Linked DNA regions of Homo sapiens. The protein of the gene in region 1 interacts with the protein of each later gene in a pairwise test. Each region holds a gene or a part of one and is shown on either strand. Other genes may lie near its edges.

Evidence for each region.
Region 2: the proteins of MYG1 (region 1) and CDS2 interact in binary tests that used the Homo sapiens proteins (3 or more experiments, as listed by UniProt).
Region 3: the proteins of MYG1 (region 1) and RXRB interact in binary tests that used the Homo sapiens proteins (3 or more experiments, as listed by UniProt).
Region 4: the proteins of MYG1 (region 1) and AP1B1 interact in binary tests that used the Homo sapiens proteins (3 or more experiments, as listed by UniProt).
Region 5: the proteins of MYG1 (region 1) and DCAF10 interact in binary tests that used the Homo sapiens proteins (3 or more experiments, as listed by UniProt).
Region 6: the proteins of MYG1 (region 1) and BSND interact in binary tests that used the Homo sapiens proteins (3 or more experiments, as listed by UniProt).
Region 7: the proteins of MYG1 (region 1) and SFT2D1 interact in binary tests that used the Homo sapiens proteins (3 or more experiments, as listed by UniProt).

Annotation. Positions count from the first base shown.
Region 1 is NC_000012.12:53,302,695-53,305,185, reverse strand, and holds part of MYG1 (MYG1 exonuclease precursor), read right to left. Parts: intron 2,153-2,491; coding exon 1,993-2,152; intron 1-1,992. UniProt on the Homo sapiens protein: 3'-5' RNA exonuclease which cleaves in situ on specific transcripts in both nucleus and mitochondrion. Involved in regulating spatially segregated organellar RNA processing, acts as a coordinator of nucleo-mitochondrial crosstalk.
Region 2 is NC_000020.11:5,172,008-5,175,507, forward strand, and holds part of CDS2 (phosphatidate cytidylyltransferase 2), read left to right. Parts: intron 1-1,515; coding exon 1,516-1,652; intron 1,653-3,175; coding exon 3,176-3,272; intron 3,273-3,500. UniProt on the Homo sapiens protein: Catalyzes the conversion of phosphatidic acid (PA) to CDP-diacylglycerol (CDP-DAG), an essential intermediate in the synthesis of phosphatidylglycerol, cardiolipin and phosphatidylinositol.
Region 3 is NC_000006.12:33,193,088-33,195,376, forward strand, and holds the end of RXRB (retinoic acid receptor RXR-beta), read right to left. Parts: coding exon 2,276-2,289; intron 1,964-2,275; coding exon 1,858-1,963; intron 1,743-1,857; coding exon 1,595-1,742; 3' UTR 501-1,594; downstream 1-500. UniProt on the Homo sapiens protein: Receptor for retinoic acid. Retinoic acid receptors bind as heterodimers to their target response elements in response to their ligands, all-trans or 9-cis retinoic acid, and regulate gene expression in various biological processes.
Region 4 is NC_000022.11:29,336,571-29,340,070, forward strand, and holds part of AP1B1 (AP-1 complex subunit beta-1), read right to left. Parts: intron 3,205-3,500; coding exon 3,184-3,204; intron 2,564-3,183; coding exon 2,420-2,563; intron 1-2,419. UniProt on the Homo sapiens protein: Subunit of clathrin-associated adaptor protein complex 1 that plays a role in protein sorting in the late-Golgi/trans-Golgi network (TGN) and/or endosomes.
Region 5 is NC_000009.12:37,856,297-37,859,796, reverse strand, and holds part of DCAF10 (DDB1- and CUL4-associated factor 10), read right to left. Parts: intron 2,557-3,500; coding exon 2,446-2,556; intron 1-2,445. UniProt on the Homo sapiens protein: May function as a substrate receptor for CUL4-DDB1 E3 ubiquitin-protein ligase complex.
Region 6 is NC_000001.11:55,008,933-55,012,432, reverse strand, and holds part of BSND (barttin), read right to left. Parts: 3' UTR 1-3,500.
Region 7 is NC_000006.12:166,339,746-166,343,705, forward strand, and holds the start of SFT2D1 (vesicle transport protein SFT2A), read right to left. Parts: upstream 2,801-3,960; 5' UTR 2,737-2,800; coding exon 2,674-2,736; intron 1-2,673. UniProt on the Homo sapiens protein: May be involved in fusion of retrograde transport vesicles derived from an endocytic compartment with the Golgi complex.

The DNA.
Region 1 (2,491 bases):
AGTTAAAACATGGGTTTAGGCCGGGCGCGGTGGCTCACGCCTGTAATCCCAGCACTTTGGGAGGCCGAGGCGGGCGGATCACGAGGTCAGGAGATCGAGACCATCCCGGCTAAAACGGTGAAACCCCGTCTCTACTAAAAATACAAAAAATTAGCCGGGCGTAGTGGCGGGCGCCTGTAGTCCCAGCTACTTGGGAGGCTGAGGCAGGACAATGGCGTGAACCTGGGAGGCGCAGCTTGCAGTGAGCCGAGATCCCGCCACTGCACTCCAGCCTGGGCGACAGAGCGAGACTCCGTCTCAAAAAAAAAAAAAAAAAAAAAAAAACATGGGTTTAGGCTGAGGTGGGAGGATCACTTGAGCCCAGGAGTTTTTGAGTCCAGCCTGGGCAGCATAGCAAGACCCTCTCTACAAAAAAATTAAGATATATAATTAGCCAGGCATGGTGGCATGCACCTGTAGTCTCAGCTACTTGGGGGGCTGAGGTGGGAAGACTGCTTGAGCCCAGGAGTTCAAAGCAGCAGCAAGCCATGATGGCACCACTGGACTCCAACCTGGGCAACAGTCTCTCAAAAAAAAATACGGGTTAAATTTAGTCAATTGTTGCTGGGATTAGTGGCTCACGCCTGTAATCCCAGCACTTTGGGAGGCCAAGGTGGGTGCGTTACTTGAGGTCAGGAGTTTGAGACCAGCCTGGCTAACACGGTGAAACCCCGTTTCTACTAAAAATAAAAAATTAGCCAGGCGTGGTGGCAGGCGCCTGTAATCTCACCTACTTGGGAGGCTGAGGCAGGAGAATCGCTTGAACCCAGGAGGCGGAGGTAGCAGTGAGCTGAGATTGTGCCACTGCACTCCAGCCTGGATGACAGAGCAAGACCCCGTCTCAAAAAAACAAAAAAAAACAACAACAAAAATTTAGTCAGTTGTTTAGAAACCCTTCAGCAGTGGAAGGGAAAACTGACCCAGGCAGTCTAAAATCTTGATATTCCAAAAACTCTATAGTTACAGAGGGCAGAAAATGGGCAAGCTAAAACTGAGAACTGATGGGCCGGGTGCAGTGGCTCAGACCTGTAATCCCAGCACTTTGGGAGGCTGAGGTGGGCAGATCACGAGGTCAGGAGATCAAGACCATCCTGGCTAACACGGTGAAACCCCACCTCTACTAAAAATACAAAAAATTAGCCGGGCATGGTGATGGGCGCCTGTAGTCCCAGCTACTCGGGAGGCTGAGGCAGGAGAATGGCGTGAACCCGGGAGGCGGAGCTTGCAGTGAGCCAAGATTGCGCCACTGCACTCCAGCCTGGGCGACAGAGCAAGACTCCATCTCAAAACAAAAAACAACAAAAAAACTGAGAACTGAATTCAACAGCCTACCTGCAAGAAATACAGCTGACTGAACCTGGGCTTTGACTTGTAAACAAGTAAGTGTCCTCAGTACTGTGCGACCTGACTTGCATGCCAGGGCCACTAGCCATATTCTTTCCCTAAGAGCAGGAAGCTGCTTGCAGGGGACACTGGTGGAATCCAAAGACAGTTTCATAATAAAACTCTTCTCAGCTGAGCTTCCCAATTTATGTGCCACTAGTGAACTACAGTGGTGCCTAACATACACTCCCCTCAACCTTCAGGGCAGCCAGAACCTCTGAGCCATCTGCTTCCACACATAAGCAGCCTCCCCTCTGTTTACCCAAAGGTGCTGAGCAATTGCTGTTTGTGTGTGTCAATAAAAAGACGGGGCCATGCTGCTTTATGGTTTTCAAAGCCCTTCCCCATATATTACAGCATCCACTTCTCACAACCACCCCAGGATGTAGACAGGGGAGGTATCACCATTCCCTTGTGAGATGAGCCTGACTGAGGGAGAGGATGAGTGTTGGGCCTGCTATAGGCCAGGAACCCTGACCCGAGGCCCAGTGCTGAGTGCTGTGTGAGCACTGCTCCCAGGCGGCCTGCTGGAAATGCATGTGGGGGGCATCTCTGTCCTCAGGTCCCCACCTTGTCATAGAGGGTGCCCACCATGCTGTCCTCTTCACTAGTGCCCAGCAACTGGGCCAGCAGCTTGTGCCCGAAGTGCAGATAGATGAGTCCCGCACTGCTCAGCTTGGTCTGCCACGGCTTCCCAGGGGACAGGGAGCTCATGGTCTCTGTGAAAGACCTGAGGAGCATAGGGAGGTGGGGCTGAGGTGAGGGACCTTGGCTAGAGTCTCCATGCATTCATTCAATGGTTAACTCAATGCTTCCTATCTGCCACATTTTATGTTTTATTAGACATTAAGGATAAAAAACCAAGACACTGTCCTTGCTTTCAGATTCATCTGCCGGAGGCCGACAAACACAACCCCCTGAGTACTCTCACTAGACGAGACAAGGGAAAGGAAGGAAGGGATGAGGAAAGGGTTCAGAGGAGAGCCTTCAGGTCAGTTCTGAAAGATGAATTAGTGGGTGTCCACCAGATAGACAAGGGGTGAAAGAGAAAAAGCATTCCAAGCAGAGA
Region 2 (3,500 bases), on another chromosome or scaffold:
CTGCACTAGTTAAGGCCCTCTGTCTTGTCACAGTTGTAAATTAATTTAGAAAGAGCTGTCTCCCTGAGGGCAGGGGCTGGGTTTTTCTTTACACACCTGGACCTAATTCTTCTCTTCTTCCATCCATTAGTAAGTGTTTTGCTGTGTGCCGTGCATGGGGATAATGAGAACAAGAAGTTATGTTCTTGTCTTTAAGGAGTTTGTCGTCAGCCAAGGAGACATTTACAAAAGTCCCCGTTGTGGTCAGCGCTGAGAGGGAGAAGGTTCTAGTGTTAAGAGAGCAAATCACTGGGGTGTCTAACCTCGCCTGAGGTGAAGGTGGGGGTTAGAGCAGTCTGAGAGAACATATTAGTAACACAAAGTACTCAAATCTGGAGCACATAAACCACTACAAATCAATAAAAAAAGGAAGGCAGAAAACTCCGTAGAAAAACTAGCCAGTGATTTGACAGACACTTGACAGAAGATACCAAGTGGCCAGTGAACATGTGAGACAGTCACAATTCCGTGTATTCATCAGTCATCAGGGAAGTCAGAGGACCTGGGTTAATATGAGACATTGGGCCACGCATTGAACTTCCCAGATCCCGTTTCTTATTTGTAAATGGGGCTTCTCCTGTCCCTTCCCTTCCTCCCAGTACTGCTCTGAAGCTTGCATGGGAAAGGCTCTTCAGACCTTGCAGGGCTATACAGATACTAAGTAGTGTTGTTACTCTAAGTGATTTACTTTCTCCTCCACCTCTTCTCATAGCAACTATTCTGAATTCCCCTATGAAAGAAAATACTTGAGTGGTAGGATGGTTCCTAGGATTCAGAATAGCCTGTCCCTTGATACTTTGGGTAAAGAGCTTGCTGCTGGCATGGCTCTGGTTCCCTCACCCAGGCTGGGAGCAGGGTGACTTCCTGTGGGTCTTTTGTCACCCAGGGCCTGGTGGCAGGGAAAGGACTGAGGTGCACCAGTCCTGGCTCGAGCGTTGTCTGGAGTAGGCTGTCTGGTTCGTTGTCCACACTGACTGTGATTGACCTCCTCACAGAGTGCTCTAGTGAAGTCCGGAAATAACACTCTGGACTTGGGACATGTTGACATTAACAGGTCTACAGGGGCAACAGCCTCACCACCTGGCTTCCCCTGAGAGAGCCTGGTCAGTGCCATTGGCTGCCCTAGCAGGCTCAGGGATAACCTCCTGTTAAAACCGGTCCCAGCCTCCCTTTTGCATTCTTTGGATACAAAGGAGCCATGTTCTCTCTCTTTTGGATCTGCCCTCTGCGGTTAAGCAGATGGTACGCGGTGCAGATGCACACCTCTCTTCCAGCAGAGTGTGGCTGGCCACCTTGGCACATGTCACAACAGTGTCAGGATTGCTGCTAGTCCTGTCAGTCCCATCACCTGACTGTGCCAGGTTCTTAGGCCCTGTTTGGAGTCTTTCCCCACAGATCTCTCATGACAGGCATAGACTTCTCAATGGTCTACTCGGCACTTTTGACCTTTTTCTCTTCTGTATTTCTGCCACTTAGGAGTCAGAGTCAGAAGCAAAGGTAGATGGAGAGACTGCATCGGACAGTGAGAGCCGGGCAGAATCCGCACCCCTGCCAGTCTCTGCAGATGATACCCCGGAGGTCCTCAATAGGGCCCTTTCCAACTTGTCTTCAAGGTAACCTGGCTTAATGATGCAGGTGCTTGTTGGGGGCTTTGCACCATGTCCAAGTGCCCTGGAAGAGCCTGCAGAGAGCCCGTGGTCTTGCAGAGCAGGCCCGCTGTCTTGCCTCAGCCTCCCATGCCACTGCTCCAGGCTCCATTGAGTGTAATCTAGTGCTTAGCAGTGGCAGTGAGCACAGTGACCAGGAGGGGAGGGCAACCAAGGCTGGAAGGATCTGGCCCCGGAAGGGTGCTTCAGACTGGACTAGGAAGTGCAGTTCAAAGAGGAAGAGGGGACAGGAGGGATGGAGGTGGGTGAGGTCAGCTGACACTGCACAGCACAGGAAACCAGCCTTGGGTTTGCGATTAATGGGCAGGCTGCTTTTCACTGAGGAGTCCACGTTTCCAGTTCAGAGTTTAGTTTCTCTCACATCCTTTGTGAACAGTTCCTTAAATTCTCCAGGAAGAACTGGGAAACATCTTAACCTAGGTGAATCTAGTGTTAAAACTTTTGGCCCTTGAGAACCTGGTTCTTTTAACACAGCTATGTGAGTAGATCAAAAACACATTATAAGACCCCAAAGCATTATCTCAGTGTTCCTATGTGTGCCTCCAACTGTCCCCTTGGGAGTCTGAATTGTGCAGTGGTTAAGGGCGTGGACTTTGCAGCCAGACCCTTGGATTCAGATCCCAGCTTTACTGTTTGCCAGCTGTTTGACCTGTGCCTCCATTTCCTCATCTGTAAAAGCGAAGTGTGTTGAGGATTGAAGGAGTTAATATATGTAAAGTCCTCATAAAATTACCTTACTCAGGCCGGGTATGGTGGCTCACGCCTGTAATTCCAGCACTTTGGGAGGCCGAGGCGGGTGGATCAGGAGGTCAGGAGATCGAGACCATGGTGAAACCCCGTCTCTACTAAAAATACAAAAAAATTAGCTGGGTGTGGTGGCAGGCGCCTGTAGTCCCAGCTACTCGGGAGGCTGAGGCAAGAGAATGGCATGAACCTGGGCGGAGCTTGCAGTGAGCTGAGATTGTGCCACTGCACTCCAACCTGGGCTACAGAGGAAACTCTGTCTCAAAAAAAAAAAAAAAATTATGCATATTTATGGTAGCTGTTATTATCATTGCATAATGTTACTATTATTCCCATAATTATTCAGGGCAGTGCAGTGTAGGATCCTGCTGCTGGAAAAAAATATTTTTTTCTTCAGATAGTCAGCTGTAGAAACCATCCAAGTGGATACAGAAGCAGAGGGCACTACATTTCCCTTGGTTTTTTTGTTTGTTTGTGTTTTGCCTGATACCTTCTTTAAGATATAAGCTAGGTTTATTTTTTGCCAAGTTTGGTTGTGACTTAGGCATTGGTACTAGTGGTCCTGCTCCTGCCAGCATGTGGCTGGTGCCTCCGTCACGGTGAATCTGGAAAGGACTGAGCTCAGGGCCCTCATCTCAGGAAGATCCATATCCCTTGAGTTTGTGCATTGGTTTTTTTCTGGGCTCCTAACTGGTGTTTTCTCCTTCCCCTGCTCTCTGACCTAGATGGAAGAACTGGTGGGTGAGAGGCATCCTGACTTTGGCCATGATTGCATTTTTCTTCATCATCATTTACCTGGGACCAATGGTTTTGATGATAATCGTAAGTGCCATTTCACACTATTTTAGTTTTCCCTTCAGTTTTTGCTGCAGGCCCGGTTGTCTTAAGTGCGAGGTGTTGGGTTGGTTGTGGGAATTGACGGGGGTCCAGGCTTCTCAGAAAACCTCTGCCATAGAACATCTGTGACTTCCCACTTCTCAGTAGCCACCTGGAGGGTCATTGGTGTAGGCTGGTTGTTTATGGTTGAAGATGTCTCAGTGTCTTTTCTTT
Region 3 (2,289 bases), on another chromosome or scaffold:
GAGCCGAGGTAGAGGGGGAGCAGTGGTAAGATGAGCGAGCAGTCGACTCTGGTTGGAAGGGTCCAGGGAAATGGGGTCACTCGGGGACGTGGGCCGCCTCCGGGCGGGCAACGCCTGAGAAGCACGCAGCGCTCGGCGCCCAGTGCGCCCCCACGAGCGGGCACGGCGCCGGGTCTGCCCGGAGCCCGCAGCGCGCCCGGAGGGAAGGCCGCAGCGAGCCGAGGCGCCGCCGCCCGCTGGCGCGGAGAGGGCACGAGCGAACAAGGCGCCTTTGAGAATCCACCGCCCCCCCTTCCTCCTCCGGCCGGCCCCGCCCCCAGCCTGGCACACCCTCTCCCCCCCTCCCCGACAAAGCTTGCCTTGTGTCCCCCACCCTGCGTGCACCTCTTGGGCCCCACGGAACCTCGGCGGCGGCGTCCAGGGATCGCGTCCGGAGCTCCCAACCGGATACCCCCCCCAAGCCCGAAACGGCGCTGCCCATCCTCATACAGTCACCTCAGTCCAGAAAACAGCGATTTTAATTTGAAAGCGATTTTATGTATGAGAGGGGAAAGGAGCCCCAAAGAGAAGGGACGCAGGGCAAAAATCATGCAGCCCCAGCACCCCACCTCTGCGGGCTGGCCACCTCCCCTCAATTCTCAGGCCAGGATCCTGTGTCCCCAGCCTATGCTATGTGCCCAGGGCTGGAGGAGAGCTGTAAAGGGAAGGCCTCCGGGACTACACTCGTGAAACCATCCCCTGTGGGGGCCCTGTCCTCACAGCCCAGGCCCCTTCCCCAAGTTAGACAGGAAGAGATAGGGGGGGCGGCGGGAAGCTGGGAAGGCTAGTGCTTGGAGAGCCCTAGGGACAGGCCATTTCAGGGCCCTGCCTTTCCCAAACACCCACCTCCACCACTGGCATTTCTTAGTCAACCTGGGAAAGTACAGTACTTCTTTGAGTCTAACTGCAAGTCTCTATCCTCACAGGAAATTAAAAATAGCAGATCGGTTCCTACATCTCCACCAGCCCCTTCACCACCACCACCACCTTTTTTATATTTCAGTCTGACTGCAGAAGGAGGTGAAGTGTAAAAAGAGACTCTGGACAGTGACAGGGCCCCTCCCTCTTCCAGAGAGGCCCCCATCTGCCAGGTTTGAGAGGAGGAAGGCCTGTCAGGGCCCTACTCTCATGTCCATCAGCTTGGGAGGCCTGCCCCCCAGTATCCACCTCTGGGGGAGTTCCCCATTTCCACTCTTCAGATGGGAAGCAAAATGAGGCAAGATGAGAAGGAAGCAAGGTCCTGGAGGCAAGGCCAGTGCTTTGTGCTGGGGGAAGGACAGAGGGTGAGAAATCACCCCAAATCATGGGAGAACCCGACAAATTCAGAGACTCAAGGCCACCGAAGAGAGACAACCAGTCCTCACAGGTATCTGGGGTCCCTTCCAACTTGGGATATCAAGCAGATCCCTTGGAGGGTTTATGTTCTTGGTTCTGCCCTGTACTTCTCACCCCATCAAGGTTCTGGGAACATGGCCCCCCACCCTGCCCCAGGGCTTGGAGTCCCTCTTGGATGTGTGCTCCTCCAGTGTGAGAAGCACCACGTCTGGGTCTGAGCTCAGGCCAGTTGATGGGGAGCCTCAAGCATCTCCATGAGGAAGGTGTCGATGGGGGTGTCACCAATGAGCTTGAAGAAAAACAGATGCTCTAGACACTTAAGGCCAATGGACCGGAGGGCAGGAAGACGTAGCAGCAGCTTGGCAAACCTGGGGTGGAGGTGGGAGAAGGGGATTGAGAGCTGGAAGCACACGGGCCCTGAACACATCCTCATAGCACTCCCCACCCCCAAGGGAGCCTCAGTGCCCCCCAGCCCCATCTCACCGTCCCTGCTGCTCAGGGTACTTCTGTTTGCAGTAGGTCTCCAGTGATGCATACACTTTCTCCCGCAGGACCTCCACCTCACTAGGGTTGGAGAGGCCCTTGGCATCTGGGATGGCAGGGAAGAGAGGAGGAAGAGAAATGAAGACAAACCAAATCAGGATGGCCATGCAGATGTGAGCCACAGGATGCCCCTTTTGGGCTGCACTTGCTTGCCCTTTACCAGAGGCCTGGCAAGGGAAGCAGGGCCCACTGGGTTTGTGGGATGGATCCGTGGATGTGGGTTTTTCCTCGGCCAGTTGGGAGATTTCCAGGTTGAGGGTCTTACTGAGGGGGATAGCTGGGTAACTTAGGAGTCTCGGAGAAGAGGAGGCTCCAAGGTTGCCTTGGCCTTGAGAGACAAAGGTAATCCTCCTCTTACCTGGATTAAACAGA
Region 4 (3,500 bases), on another chromosome or scaffold:
GCAGGTGGATCATCTGAGGTCACGAGTTCAAGACTAGCCTGGCCAACATAGTGAAATCCTGTCTTTACTAAAAATACAAATAATTAGCTAGGCATGGTGGCAGGTGCCTGTAATCCCAGCTACTTCGGGAGGCTGAGGCAGAAGAATCGCTTGAACCCCGGAGACACAGGTTGCAGTGAGCTGAGATCGCACCATTGCACTCCAGCCTGTGTGACAAGAGCAAAACTCTGTCTCAAAAAAAAAAAAAAAAAAAGATGAACACACAAGCCTAGTGCCAGCTTGCCAAAGGCCAGCTCCAGGCTTATTTTTCCTGGCAGCTCTGCAGTGCCTGGCAAGGGCTGGCACCCACAGGGTTACAGGAGTCTTTGCTGTTCTCTGTCCCTTAGTCCTGCTTTGTATGCCTGTGATATTGGGCTTCTGGTGAGTACGAGTTGGCCTCATGCCTTGGTGCAGCTAATCCAGGTAGTAAGTCAACTGCACATGCTGTACGTTATGCCGCGATTCTACGTTCCCGTGGCCCTGCTGGCCCTGACACCCCACGCATGAAGGCAGGTGCACAGGTGGTTCTCACGCTCTGTGGGGACCATCATATAGGGGTCTGGAGCAGAGGCTTTAGTGTCACTTGCTTTCACTTCCAGACTCTGTCACCAGCTATGTGACCTTAGGCAAAAGCACTAGGATTTCTCAACCACGAAATAGGAGGAAGAGCCACAAAGGGCTGCTGGGAGGAGGACGTGCTGGCGGTGGCTGTGGAATGCTGTGCTGTCCCTACAAGGAAGTGTGCGGCTACTAGTGTCCGAGTTGCTGTCTGCTGTGGGCCTCTCAGTGCCCAGACCCTGCCAGGGGCTCCAGTCACCACCACTGCAGGTGCAGCTGGCATATGGTGGGGAAAGCCAGCTCAGGGGGTGGGGAGGTGCTGGCTCATGGCTCCCTAGTCATGACAGAGCTGTCACTGCCCCTGACCGCCAACTGTATCCTGCTTTGGGGTGGGGACCTCAGAAGAGAGAGGGGAGCTCTGGCAAACACAACTTCTGATCTGAGTGTGATGAGGGGATCAGGCCTGGTTGGTCCCCTCTGGCAGCTTCCTTGACACTGACAACATGGCCCACACTGAGCTCTCCTCAGTGCCAGGCCCGCATGTCCTCACATCCCAAACTCAACTCTCCTTCCCTCAGCCCCGGCTCCTCCCTCCCAGGGAGCTCTCAAGTCTGGCCGCTGTTTCCACCCACAAGAGCCCCCGTGGTCCAGCTGCCCCAGCACTCCTCCTCCCTGCCACGGAATCCCCCGGGGCCGGTGCTTCTGCCCCACCCCTTCCCTGCAGACGCAGCCATCTTTCTCAAGTGCAAATCAGACTGGTTCATCTCTTTGCTTAAAACTTTCCAATGGCTCCGGCTGTGCCAGGATCAAGAAGAAACGCTCAGCCTGGCCCGCCAGCCTTGCCAGCTTCCTCCTTCACTGATCCCTAGTCTAGCCAGGAGTCTTGGGGGTGTGCCCTAGGTGGCATAGTGGGCATCTGTGGGCATCTTCAGGTGGCATAACATGTAGTGGGCTGGAGTCAGGGATGCTGGACATCCTACCATGGGGACAACCACCCCACAACAAGCAACTGTCCTGCATCCTTCCAGTATTTTCTGCATGGTTTCAACATATCCTGAGACTTCCAGGAACACAATTCTCAGGAAAATCGAGGGAAGCCTGTTCTTTATCTTACTCCAAACCTTACTGGGAGTCAGTGACCACTTCAGAAACAAATGGCACCACTGGCCAAACCATTCACGGGGTCCAGGCTACAAACACCCAGACTGTGGTTGCCACAGTCACAGTGACTTTGCCCTGCAGCAAACACCTGGCAACTTCATGTCTTCTGGGGTGAGCGGGCAGGCGTGCCCAGACGTTTATAACATTGATACATACACTTGTATTCTCTCCCTTTTATGTCTCCTCCATGCAGTGAAAGCATCTGAGTATTTTTGGAATGCTATGTGTAGGTAGGTTACACAGCCCACCAATTGCATTTAAGGAGAGGAATGGTGACAATGTAAAATGTCTATGATGACTAAGGGGTGCTGAGTCTGATGGCACTGAGAACTACTGCTCCCACCTGACAGGCCTCTGCTGATTCCCTCACAAAGGCCGTGGTCTCCCTTCCCTCCAGGCCTTACCACAGACTGTTCCCTTGGTCTGGAGCCCCTATCCGCTTTTGTTCAGCTACTGAGGTCCTGCGACTCCTCTGGAAAGCCTTCCTAGGTACCCACCAAGCTTGACTTAGCTCCTCTTCCTCGGTGCCCCTGTGGCCCCCAGCTTCCCTCATCACTGCTGGCCTGAGCCAATTCCACAGCCGAGGCCATTTAAAGGAGCCCACATGCCAGTCTCCATAACTTCTCTCTGCTCCCGCCAAGACAGAAGACAAGTGACTTACTGCTTTGGGGGCCACATATGATCCTGACAGGGTGCCCACGCCACTGGTCAGGTCAAAGAGGTCACTCAGGCCACTGCCGATGGGTGCTCCAAGATTGGCTGGTACTGCTGCTGTTGGAGGTGCCACGAAGTTGGTGCCCCCAATCTGGAAAGGGAGGGAAAGAGTCAGAGGTGGGCGTCAAGAGGCAAAGACATCAGGGTCTGGGAATGAGTAGAGCCACCTGGCTCTTTAGAAGACACTGGGGGCAGGGGGCAGGACAGCCTCCATATCAACTCTAAATTACAGAAACAAGACAGAGAGAGGTGGGTGGAGAAGAGAGGCTGAGCCCTCCCGTGCCCTGCAAGCCTTGAGCCTTAGGAGTAACCTCTGGGAAAGGGCTGGGGACACTCCCAAATTGACGCTCAGCCTATGGATAAAAGGAGGTCCCAAGACACACGGCTGGGTGGAGACATGCTACGCAGATGGGTGCTCTCCCTCCAGGACATCAGAGAAGGGTTGTGGGACTGAGGGCTGGCAATCCCCGCGATGACAAGGCGACGTGTCATGGGGTGGTGAGGACTGGGCAAGAATCCATGGCTATGGGGCCCAGTGGCAGCCGGATGCCAGGTGGTCAAGACAGAGGCTGCCAGGATGCTGGACCAAGGCAGGGGCTCAGCAGGTGGAGGCTGCTGTGACATCACCCGCCCCCGCCCCTTGGGATGCTGGGCCAGCGCTTTCGGGAGGAGCAAGGACGAAGGCTTGGTGACGCAAGGGTTGAACCATACCCCTTCAGGCTCATCCCCCATCTCCAAGCAGAAGCAGGCAGGTGAAGAGAACAGGCAGCCACATGCAGAGAGAAAAAGCCAGGAAGGAAGACAGAGAAACAAGAGAGAGAAGGGAAAGAGGGAGATTAGTCAACGGTAGCTCCATCCGAGAGGAGTGTGGTGTGAGGTCTGGCGAGAGGCCCAGACCCTGTCTCTATGAAAGGCACTACCCCACACCTTTACCCCAACACCTGTCCTGCACCACAGCCCTTCCTGCCTCACCCTAGCAGCACTGATCACCAGTGTCCTGCCCCCGTGCTGCCACCGTGCGGACCTGA
Region 5 (3,500 bases), on another chromosome or scaffold:
AAGGCTAAGGCATAGAAGCTGACTAGGGGTTCTTTTATTTGGATCTTACATCTCAGAAAGCTCTTTATTTAAGTAAGAACCAAAGTTATGTGACATGAAAGGACTCTAGAAAGGTAAAAGGTAACAATTCTCCTCTCATTGGTCCTGGTGCTTTCTGGTCCAGAGAAGGAAATACTTGGAAGCCATGAGGATTGCCTTTTAAGCAAATAAAAAGATCAGGACTTAAGCACCTGCAATAACAACACTATAAACAAAAAATAAAATGTTGGAGGTAAGAAAGGACACCTCACATAAAGGCATGTCAAAACAAGGGATGGGAGACATTGCCAATCATAGACTCTACTATGCCTCATCATTTCCTTCTACCTAACTCCCAATGAAAATGACTGCTGGAGTAAGGCACTGTTAATAATAGGAATATGTTATATCCTTCAGGTGCGTGAAAAACCACTTTCATAGACACTGTAAGGAAGCAACTTAGAAATTTAATAGCAAGAGAAATATTTCAACACTTCTCTGACTGTGGAAGGAGTTATTTTGAAGGTATTGAGCTCCCTCTGTCAGATCCTTTGTGAATTGCTTGTCAAGCAGATGTGTTACCTTCTTTCTAAAGATTCCCTTCAGATTACTACATCATTAACAGAAACCTGTGAAGCTCTAAATTACACTGCTATAACAAAACTATACTGAAATAACTATTTCACATATGATTGAACTTTAACAATTTTAGAGAAAAATATACTCTTATTTTAAGAATTAATTTGGAAAACCTATAACAAAACCAGACAAGAAATGCATTCTAAGTAGGTGGTTTGCTAACTGTGCTCCTTTGGGGTTCCTCAGGAGATGGCAAAAGTGGGGAACCACGTGTGGGCTGAGGTGTAGATGGAGTGGGGAAGGCTGGAGGGTCAAGAGCCTCCCTAATTTTTCTTGAACCAGAGCTACTTTGATTTTATTTGTGCTACATCTCTAAGAATCCACAGCAGATTTCATGTCAAAAATAGAGTTCTAATGCTGAAATGCATTTGAAAGCCTCTGCTCTATACAGCTATTATATCTGCCAAAGGATAGTGTTAACATACTCTGACATCTGAAGATCCAGGATTTCCAACATTTAGAGCAACTTCACCTATAAGCCCCACCTTCTCCCATGTTTTCCCTCTCTTTTCACCCTCTCATTTTCCTCTTCTTCCCAGCCTCCTCATATATCATCTCTTCCCTCATTCTTAACTCTCTGTGGCATAGAACTGCTGTATATTTGTGTTTGTGTGTTTACCACTGGTCAATAACAAGCAAGCATGTTAACTATTCTTCTTAAATTAAGTTTCTTTTTCTTGTGGATGGTGTAGTCAATCAATAAAGATTTTTCTCAATGATTATTAGAAGCCTTGACTTGTTTCCCATAGCACAAGTGGAAGGAGAACAGGAAGAATCTGCAAAAGATGTTTGTGTTACAAATCAAAGGAAAAATGTTATACTTCTGGGCATAAATCTTTAAATTTAAGAGGAGGAGCCTTTAACCTTAAAGTGAAATATCACAGACTTCAATATCCAGAGGCAAGTGGATAGGCCATATAGGTTAGAAAGAGCTCTTAAACCATTCTACTGACATAAGTAGCCATGCAAGATAACCAGCATCTACTAGGCAAAGCCACCCAGTGAAAACACAAATTAGAAGTCTAAGATTTAGTCTCTGCCCAAAATAACAAGGTAGAGAAATGTCTATCTCCAAAAGTGACCCAAAATGACAAAAAAAAAAGCAAGCCATCTCTGGCTCTTAATACTCAGTTCACAAAGAGAAGAATAAACAATGAATGGTATAAGAGCTTAGACGTCAGTTAGTATGAAGAGGAACAGTATGTGGAATTTGTATAGGCAGAAACCATTTCAACTGGGGGGGTGTGGTGGAAGGTATAGGGCAGAGCAACTAGTTCTGCCAGAATGGCTAGGAAAAAACTGGGAAATACAGAGAGGAGCCAGATGGTAGCTCACTTTATCCTACAAACCCTTGGAAGCTGTCAGGCATTGCACAGACAAGGAAATGGCAGAGCAAAAAGTCTGAGGGTAACCAGGTGACTTTCACAATTACCTGAAAATTCATGACTTATATTTATACAGAGCTTTCACGTGCATAATCTCACTTAATTTTCACAACAATCTTGATTGAAATCTATATTTCTGAACTACTTCCTCTCCAAACTAGACCAAACTAAGTCCAGCTAATAAAACCAAAGCTCAAGTTCTATTAAGATTTAACTCAAGATATTCAACCCCAGGGACTCTCGGTTAGCTTTTTGAAGATGATGACTGAGGGATAAATCACCTCATCTCCATTGCTTTTATTTTTATGGATTAAAACCATAAAACTGGTTTTAATCAATCAATAATTAATCAGATTGGCATAATCTGTTGTTACAAGATTATAAAATCCAACTTTTAACCTACCTTCTCTTTGAGAGGCTCGTGACATGTGTTTCTCAGAAGAATTAGAATCACTATGATGACAAGGTGAGCCAGAAACTCTAGGACCAGATGAACTTGATGAAGTGGTCAAATCTTAAAAATATAAAAAATTCTGACAATAAACCTAGCATAACTCTGGTAGTGGCTCTTAACTTTTTAATTATCTACTCGAACCATAGTTTTAAAATTTTGAAAAAATGCTCATATATCACTGGCCTATAAGACTGAGGAAGGCAAGACAGCTCTTTGAAGTGTTCTAAGATCTAGTCCCTTTCTGAATCTTTTATATCAAAGACTTGACTATGTGAAATAAAAATGAAAAACCAAATAATCATAGGAGCGTCTTTGGATCCTCATGATTTCTGTACTAAAATGGAACCCAAAAATTCCATGAAAATGAAAACTAAGCTCTTAAGCCTATTGTTTTATGTTAAAATAGGGTCCAAACAACAGGCCCATTACCAGAAACATGAAGAGATTCTTCTTTAAAGTATACCAAAAACTTCCATTATCATTCTTGAAATTACGTGAATAGTCTTTTTTTTTGAGACAAGGATCTTGCTATGTTGCCCAGGCTGGACTCCTAATTCCTGGGTTCAAGTGATCCTCCTGCCTCAGCCTCAGCCTCCTGAGTAGCTGGGCCTAAAGGCATGCACCACTGTGCCAAGTTTATGTGAATACTGTGAAATGTGACATAAAGTTTACATTGAAAAAAATAAAATGAGTATCAGGTAGTGGAGTCTGATATATTACTCCAAATAGCAGTGTCTATTTCATCATCACATTTTGCTAGTGGTCCCATACCTATGTTAAGAATTCTTACTAGTCTAATTTCCTGTAATGTTATTTAGTATCAGAATTACCATTAGAAAACTGAAAACCTTGTTGGTTTTTGAGTTGAAATAGGCCAACTAGACATTCAAAATCACTATTTCTCACTAAGTTAGAGTTGCTTATCATGTTTAACTTAAAAGGCAAATTTGAATCTCAAAGGATTATACTCGTATATTTATGAAATCCCTTGTTTGCAAGTAAGT
Region 6 (3,500 bases), on another chromosome or scaffold:
TGGCTGAGGCTGAAGGTAAAACCAGGTCTTTCTGATTCTGGAGCCTGGGATTTATAACAAACATTTGCAATGTGGGGTCGACAGATCGGTCCCCCAGGGCTGTTTCACGGACTAGATAGGGTAATAGGGGTGACGGTGTCTTGCATGGTGACAGGCACACAGTGCTCAGGGACTGGGAGCAGAAGTGGAATCTTGCCCACCCTCACCCAATTTTACAGAGAATAGAGGAGCCCAGGGAGGGCTGTGATGTACCCAAGGTCATGGCGAGCGGTCGGCAGAGCCCAGGTTCCCTGCCCCTGGGCCCCCTGCCTTCCCTTGCCCACCCTTTCCAGTTAAGGGCAGGGGCCATCCCTCCAGGGCCTTTCCCTCTCCAGAGGGTGGAAACTTCCAGAGTCCCTCCAACCTGACAGGAGAGTGACCAAGAGCAGGAATTTTCACCCTGGCACACACACCTGGAGCCTGGAGCTGAACGCTAGAATCCCAGGCTTTGCCACCCCAAAAGGCCCCTCCTGACCCTTTCAGAGCCTCCCAGCCTTCTCCCCAGGACCTTCACCAGCACCTTGCCCCTCTCCCAGTGGAGAGGGGGTGCCCCAGAGGCTCTGATGCTCTTAGAGGGGACTGCAAGTTGGCAAGGCCAGGGGCATGAAGCACAGTGTTTTATGATTTTATTTTATCCTAGATAAGGTTGAAGAAGACACCCAGTCATAGAATGAGCCCCGCCTCCTGACAGCAGCCGGTTCAGAGCAAAGGCCTGCTTCTTAAACCCTCGCCAAGCCACTGAGCACTGGCCCAAATCCAGTAACAAGTCCTTTCTAATACCTCTTTCAGAGACTCCCCCTGGTTCGCTGTGGTGTTCATTCCCCCTTACTGCAAGAAGAAACCCAGCTTGTTAACCACAGGTGAGGTGTGCTCCCAGTGGTCTTTGGCTGCAGGGCATTGACAAGATAGGTCCCATCAAACACCCCCATCACTTCCAAGATTCCAAGATATGCGCACTTCATCTGTCATTTGCACATGAGAAAGCTGAGGGCTACGGAGGCAACCAGACTTGTCAAAGGTCACAGAGTAGGTAAGGTAACATTGTATCATCCAAATGAGGTATCTTCGAGCGTGAAAGGGGCCTCCTAATAACTTAGCAGAGGCAGTCGGTGTCAACCGGGACCTTCCTGGGCAGATCAGGTGTGTGGTCTCCCCATCATGCAGCAAGAGCCAGGGAGACCAAGCCTGGGTCTCACCATCTCACTCCACTACCCCAAGCCCCCTGCAGATGCTAACTCTAGAACAGGGTTACCATCTTCCTGCTGGCAGGCCCAGCAACCAGAGGCTCTTGTTTAAGTCTAAAGCCACTGCGGTTGTGGTTCAGGGGTGTGGGGAATCACTCCTGAGATTCAGCACCACACAGCACACCCCACGGTCATGCCACTGCAGTGAGGGCTTACTTCCGGAAGAGGGCCTCTGGTGCCCGTCAGGCGTAAGGCCTCACGTATCCTGCCCCGAGGGAAGGGGTGGTTTTAAAGAAAAGAATTTGCAGGTGAATGAAGATGACCCCTTTAAATGTTGAAAGTAGTTTTATTTTAGCCCTTAGTGCTGACGCTGTTTCTAACGTGGGTTGTAGGCTGCCCTGCCTTAGGCAACAGAGCACAGGAGCATGCTACCCCTCACCTCATCCGAAGACTCAGCTGTGACCAGGAACTCCTGTCCTGAGTCATGACAGCAGAGAGGGTGTACCCTGTGGCATCCTTCACTGCAGAGGCAGAAATGACCCAGAAAGAAAAGGAAGTGTGTTCCCAGGGCCATGACCTTGTAACCCAGCACACAGGGGCATCTCCTTCCCTAGGCCAGGACCCCCGGCCTCAACCCGGAAGCCCTTCCCTAGGCCGGGAACCCCAGCCTCAACCCAGAACCCCATAGCCCAGGTGAAGGTCTCTGACTCCCAGGTGGCCCAGGGTGCAGGCTCTGAGGGCGTGGTCCTGGTTTGAGGTAGTGTTACTGCCATTTTCTCTGCAGCTGCCAGGATCCTGGGCTGGGGCACAGGCAAGCGTTGCAGGGATCAGCGTAACAATAGCATCACCCTGAGATGGTTCAATAGGGTACAGTGATGTCTTCAGGGGCTGCAAAGACAGCTTGAGCTATTTCCCCACCATACTCAACTGCCCCAAACAGCTGGGAGGCTGTCACTCTTCTGCCTCTGGTGTGTCCATTTTTTACTTCTCTGTTCCCACCTCAGCTTCTGCTCTGCACTCACAGAAATCAAGCTCACTAGATTGTGAGCCCTCTGAAGGCAAGCACGGTGTCAGTAGTTCATGTCTCTTTACCCCTAGAGATCACAGCTCAATATCTGGCATATAGTAGATGCTCACTAAATGCCATCCAATTCCAATTGTTTTGTTTTGAGGCAGGGTCTCACTCTGTCACCCAGGCCGGAGTGCAGTGGTGCGATCTCGGCTCACTGCAACTTCCATCTCCTGTGCTTAAGCTATCCTCCAGCTCAGCCTCCCAAGTAGCTGAGACTACAGGTGTGCACCACCACGCCCAGCTAATTTTTGTAGTTTTAGTAGAGATAGGGTTTCGCTATGTTGCCCAGGCTGCTCTCCAACTCCTGGCCTCAAGTGATCCACCCACTTTAGCCTCCCAAAATGCTCAGATTACAGGCATGAGCCACCGCACCTGGCTAGCCAACTGATTCAAACTGAAGTAGGCCAGGAAGATGAATTTCACCTACAATTCCAAGTCAAAGCAAATGTATTCCAGAGGCAGGGGTGGGGGGTGGTGTTCCTCTGGGGGCTTTTTGCCTGCTTTGTGAATACATACAGGCCATTTAGAAGTTTGAATGCTGGGAAGTAAGAGGGCTGTGAGTCTAAAAGTTGGGAACGTGGGGGAGAGTGATTTTATCTGCAACAGGTTCCTGGGTCCTGGTGAGTTCTGTACACCCTTGATGACCACCGATTCTGGGCCAGGCCAAAGGCCCATCTGGGCACAGGCGATCTCAAGGTGAGTAAAGTCAAGATGCTGCCCTTCAACGGGAGGCAGGCAGCCATGCCACACTGACAAATATACAGGTCCCAAAGGCAGCGCAGAGAGGCAAGACCACCTGGTTCCAGGAGGCAGCGACATCAGGAAAACCTTTCCAAGGGAGGTCATCTGTGTAGGGGTTTGAAGGGTGAGCACGAATTTGCCAAGCTGAAAAGGGAGCCAAGGGCATCCTGGTGGAGGAGAACAGCTTGGGCAAGAGTGTGAGCCGCAAGATGGGCAGGGGGGCTAGGCTTGGAACTGGAGGAGCAGAGAGAATGAGGTCAGCAGGGGTCAGTCACAGAAGGTTTTGGGTCCTGGCCAAGGAGCGATGGGAGCTGCAGGAGGAATGTGGCCCAGGAGGAGATGAGGCTCCCTCTGTGTAAAGACGGATCACGCCATCTACCAAGTGGACTATAAGACACAATAGGAATGGGAAACCTGACTGGCCTTCACAAAGGATCAGGGGCCCAGAGGGAGCACCAAGGAAG
Region 7 (3,960 bases), on another chromosome or scaffold:
CTCCTCCTTCTCTCGCCACGCCTCTCAGCTGTCTTTGCCGGCTTCTGCTCATCCTCTAAACTTCTACACACCTAGAGAAAACCAGAGGTCAAACCTTGGACCTCATCTTGACGATCTCATCTCTCTCCTATTTCCTCCCACAAACTCTACAGTGTTACGTCCAACTGCTTTCCTCACATCTCCACTTGGATGCTACCTGGATCTCAGACTTCACGTCCACACTGAAATGATTTTCCTCCCTGAACCTGCTCCTCCCACAGTCACTTAATGGCAACTCCACCTCTCCAGATGCTCAGGTCGAATGCCATGAGGCATCCTTGCCTCCTCCCACTCTCACACATCCAATCCGTCAACAGTGTGGCCTGCTGGCTGTACACTCAGACCATTTACAGAATCTGACCACTTTTTTGTTTTTTAAACAGGCTTTTTTGCTCTTTAAACCACTTCTATCACTGATTTGAGCCACAGTCATCTCTTGCCAGGACAACTGTACTTGTCTCCAGCCCAGTCTCTGGGCTTCTAACATTGCCTCTACAGTTTGTTCTCCACAGAGCTGCCAGAGTGATCCTTTAAAATCCAAGTCGGTCACACCACCACTCTGCTCTAAACCCAAAGGCTTCCTATCACACTCAGAGTAAAGCTAAAATCCTTTCTATGGCCTATGAGAACCCTCACAATTGAGAATCCCCCTTCCTGCTTCACCTTTTCTTCTACAATTGTCCCTCTTCTCTGCCCCGCTGCTAGAGCCCCTCTGGCCTCCTTACTGGCCCTGAACATGCTGACCACACACCACTTGGGACTCTGTATCTGCCTTGGAGGCTTTTATTCACAGGATGCTCAGACATCCCAGCAGCTCTTCTGAGCTGTGCTCACATGACTCCCTGGCAGGGAGGCCTTATCTAAGTAATATGGCAACCCCAACCTCCTCAACCTGCTCTGACTTTTTCTGTGGCTGTCTGACACATTATATACTTGTTTATTCACTGTTTCCTCCAATTAAAATTTAAGTTCCATGTGAAAGAGGTATTTGCACTGGTCACTGTTATTAACACCTGCATCTTGAACAATGTCAAACATATGCAGGAACTTGAATATTTGTTAATGAACGATCACCTCCTCTGAACTCACAGCACTTGTCTATACAGCCAGTCACTCTAATCTTTGATTGATTACTTCTCCACATATCTTTCTCCCCTCTAGACAGTGGGCTCAAGATAAGTGATATTACCTTTGCATCTCCAAAGTTTAGAGTAGCACTGTCCAATAGAACTTTCTGCAATGCAAATGTTCTGTATCTGCGCTGTTTAATACAGTAGCCTTTAACCACATGTGCCTACTGAACATGTGAAATGTGGTTGCTGTGACTAAGGAACTGAATGTTAAATTTTATTTAATTTTAATTAATTTAAATTTAATTGCTCCAGGCGCAGTGGCTCAAGCCTGTCATCCAAGCACTTTGGGAGGTCAAGGTGGGCGGATCACTTGAGGTCAGGAGTTCGAGACCAGCCTGACCAACATGGTGAAACCCCCATCTCTACTAAAAACACAAAATAATTAGCAGGGCATGGTGGCAGGTGCCTGTAATCCCAGCTACTCAGGAGGCTGAGGCAGGAGAATTGCTTGAACCCGGGAGGCAGAGGTTGCAGCGAGTCGAGATCACGCCACTGCACTCCAGGCCTGAGCGACAAAGCAAGACTCCATCTAAAAAAAAAAAAAAAAAAAATTCATTGGCCACATGTGGCTGTGGTAATATACAGAGTTACAGAGTGCAATGAGAACAGATACTTGTCTTACACTCTCTGAACCCAAAACTGTAGCCCAGAACTCTACCCACACCAAGTGCTGAGTAAGTATAATGACAAGGAAGTCAGGAGAGACAAATAGAAGATCCTTATGAAATACAATTCAATTTTAAACGTCCAACTTCTGCGACAGCACACAATAACGTGCAATATAATCGCATGCAATAACAAAAAAACTTACACCGCAGTTCCTGCTCCACTGCTACTTTTAACCTTCTTGCTGGAGGAAGTAACCCTTATCAAGTCTCGCTGGTAAGGCGCAGACACAAGGGCTTTTATTAAGAAAAAAAAAAAAATCTCTTACCAGGGCTCACTGCCTTAACAGAAAAATTTTAATTCAATATTATTTCACTTACCAATGTCCTGTTTATTTTTCCTCCAGTCTCCCTATTTCCAAAAGACCACCCCCCAGCAAACACACACATAACACCACCTTTACCTCCAAAGACAAACAGATGCAACAAGCTTTAGGGTCTCGGCTCACTGCAGCTTGCAGGATAAATGCCCTGCATAGCTACTTACGCTGCACAGCCCGAGGCCAGACCCCGCACCAGGCTCAGAAAACCAAATAGTACGTGGGAGCGATGGATTATTTGGGAAAGCGAGGGCAGACGTTAGCGGATTCCTAAGTCAGAAGGCCAGATGGGAGAGTCGGGGGGGGGCCTCAAAGTGGGTTTAAGTAGACCGCATGGAAAACTGGAAAGTTCTCAAATTCTACCCAGGAAGCAGGCGGAGCCCTCCTAAATCAACCAGCCGGGCAGAGGAGTCCCAGACCCCCGGCCTCGCACCCACCCCACCCGCTCGGCCGGTCCTCAGTGCGGCCGGGGCCAGCGGGCAGCCCCGGGACTGGACGAGGGCGCAAGTTCGCTACCTGCGCAGTCAGGCCCTGCTCCTCGTCGTCCTGGCCGCTCAGGACTCGCCGCAGCTTCTCCATGGCCCTGTTACAGGGCCGTAGCGGCCGCCACTCTGTTGCCTGCCCCTGACGCCCACCAGGAAACCCCGAACCCGAAACCCCACAGACCAGCCGGAAGTCCGGTCCCGCCCGCTTCCTGTGCGTCAGCGCGGCCGCCGTAGCAATGCGCGCATGCTCACCAGCCTTTCTCTCGGACCCGGTAGTGGTCCGTGAAGTCCGCGGAGTGGGCGCTGATGGTGGGGCTATCCCTTCCCACTGTCCGCGAGGTGCGCCGTGGTAACGCGCGGGGACACAGCGCGGGTGTGGACCCCCTGCCCACAGCTGGCGCACAGCCATTGAGTGTAGACCCGACTGGGGCACGACCACTGAACCCTGCACTTGGCGTCCTCCGGGCCCCGCGAGGGGCCTTGCTGGGCGGGTCCGCGGCACCCCGGGTTCCCAGAAGTCGAGGCCCCGAATGCGCCTCCCCTCGCCTGGAATCGGAGAGCGGAGGGCTCCTGCGGGCAGGTGGCCGTGCTCCGAAGAGCGCCCTGCCACCCATGAGGTGGCCCTGGGGGCGTCGCTAGCCTTCCCAGCTGGGTGTCCTCATCCGGAGACACAAACACCTGCCTCAGGATTAAAGCGAGGAGCTGTATTTCAGACCGTCTCAGGAGAAATAGCAAGAGGCTGCCTCACTCCTTTGCCCTTGTGAGAGCTATTTCTTTACTCAGTTCACTGGTCAGCTAGGAGTTTGAAAGAGTGAAATCTTATTTATAAAAGGAATAGCTAATGCAACCCATTTTTCCAGTTTTGTGTGAACAGTGAAACCATTGAACAAGCGTTTACTGTTCTCCGGCTCGTGCTGGATGAACAAACACTAAGAAATGGGGAAGTGGCATTTTTCTCTCTCTCATTTTCCACCATGCTAAGAAAGGAGATTAAAAATCAGGGCTGCCTGTCTAATATGGTCTCCAGAAGTCATTAAGTGATAGGTTTTGCTCTTCTGTTTGCTTCTAGGCTTGGTAAGATGGTAATGAGAATGCCTGTTCTTTTGATTACTTTGCCCACTCCATTTCCTCCCTAAAATCTTTCAGTTAAAAGGTGGATCCTCAAAAAGTTTCATTGTCCATCCTACTGCCTCAGTAGAGATTTTATCTAAACTCAATTAGATAAAAACAAATACCACAGGAACCCTAGGAAAGCAAGTCGCGCCTTCTTGTGATGAAACGGTCCAATGCTCAGCATCCTTTTCCTTTAGGCAGAAGA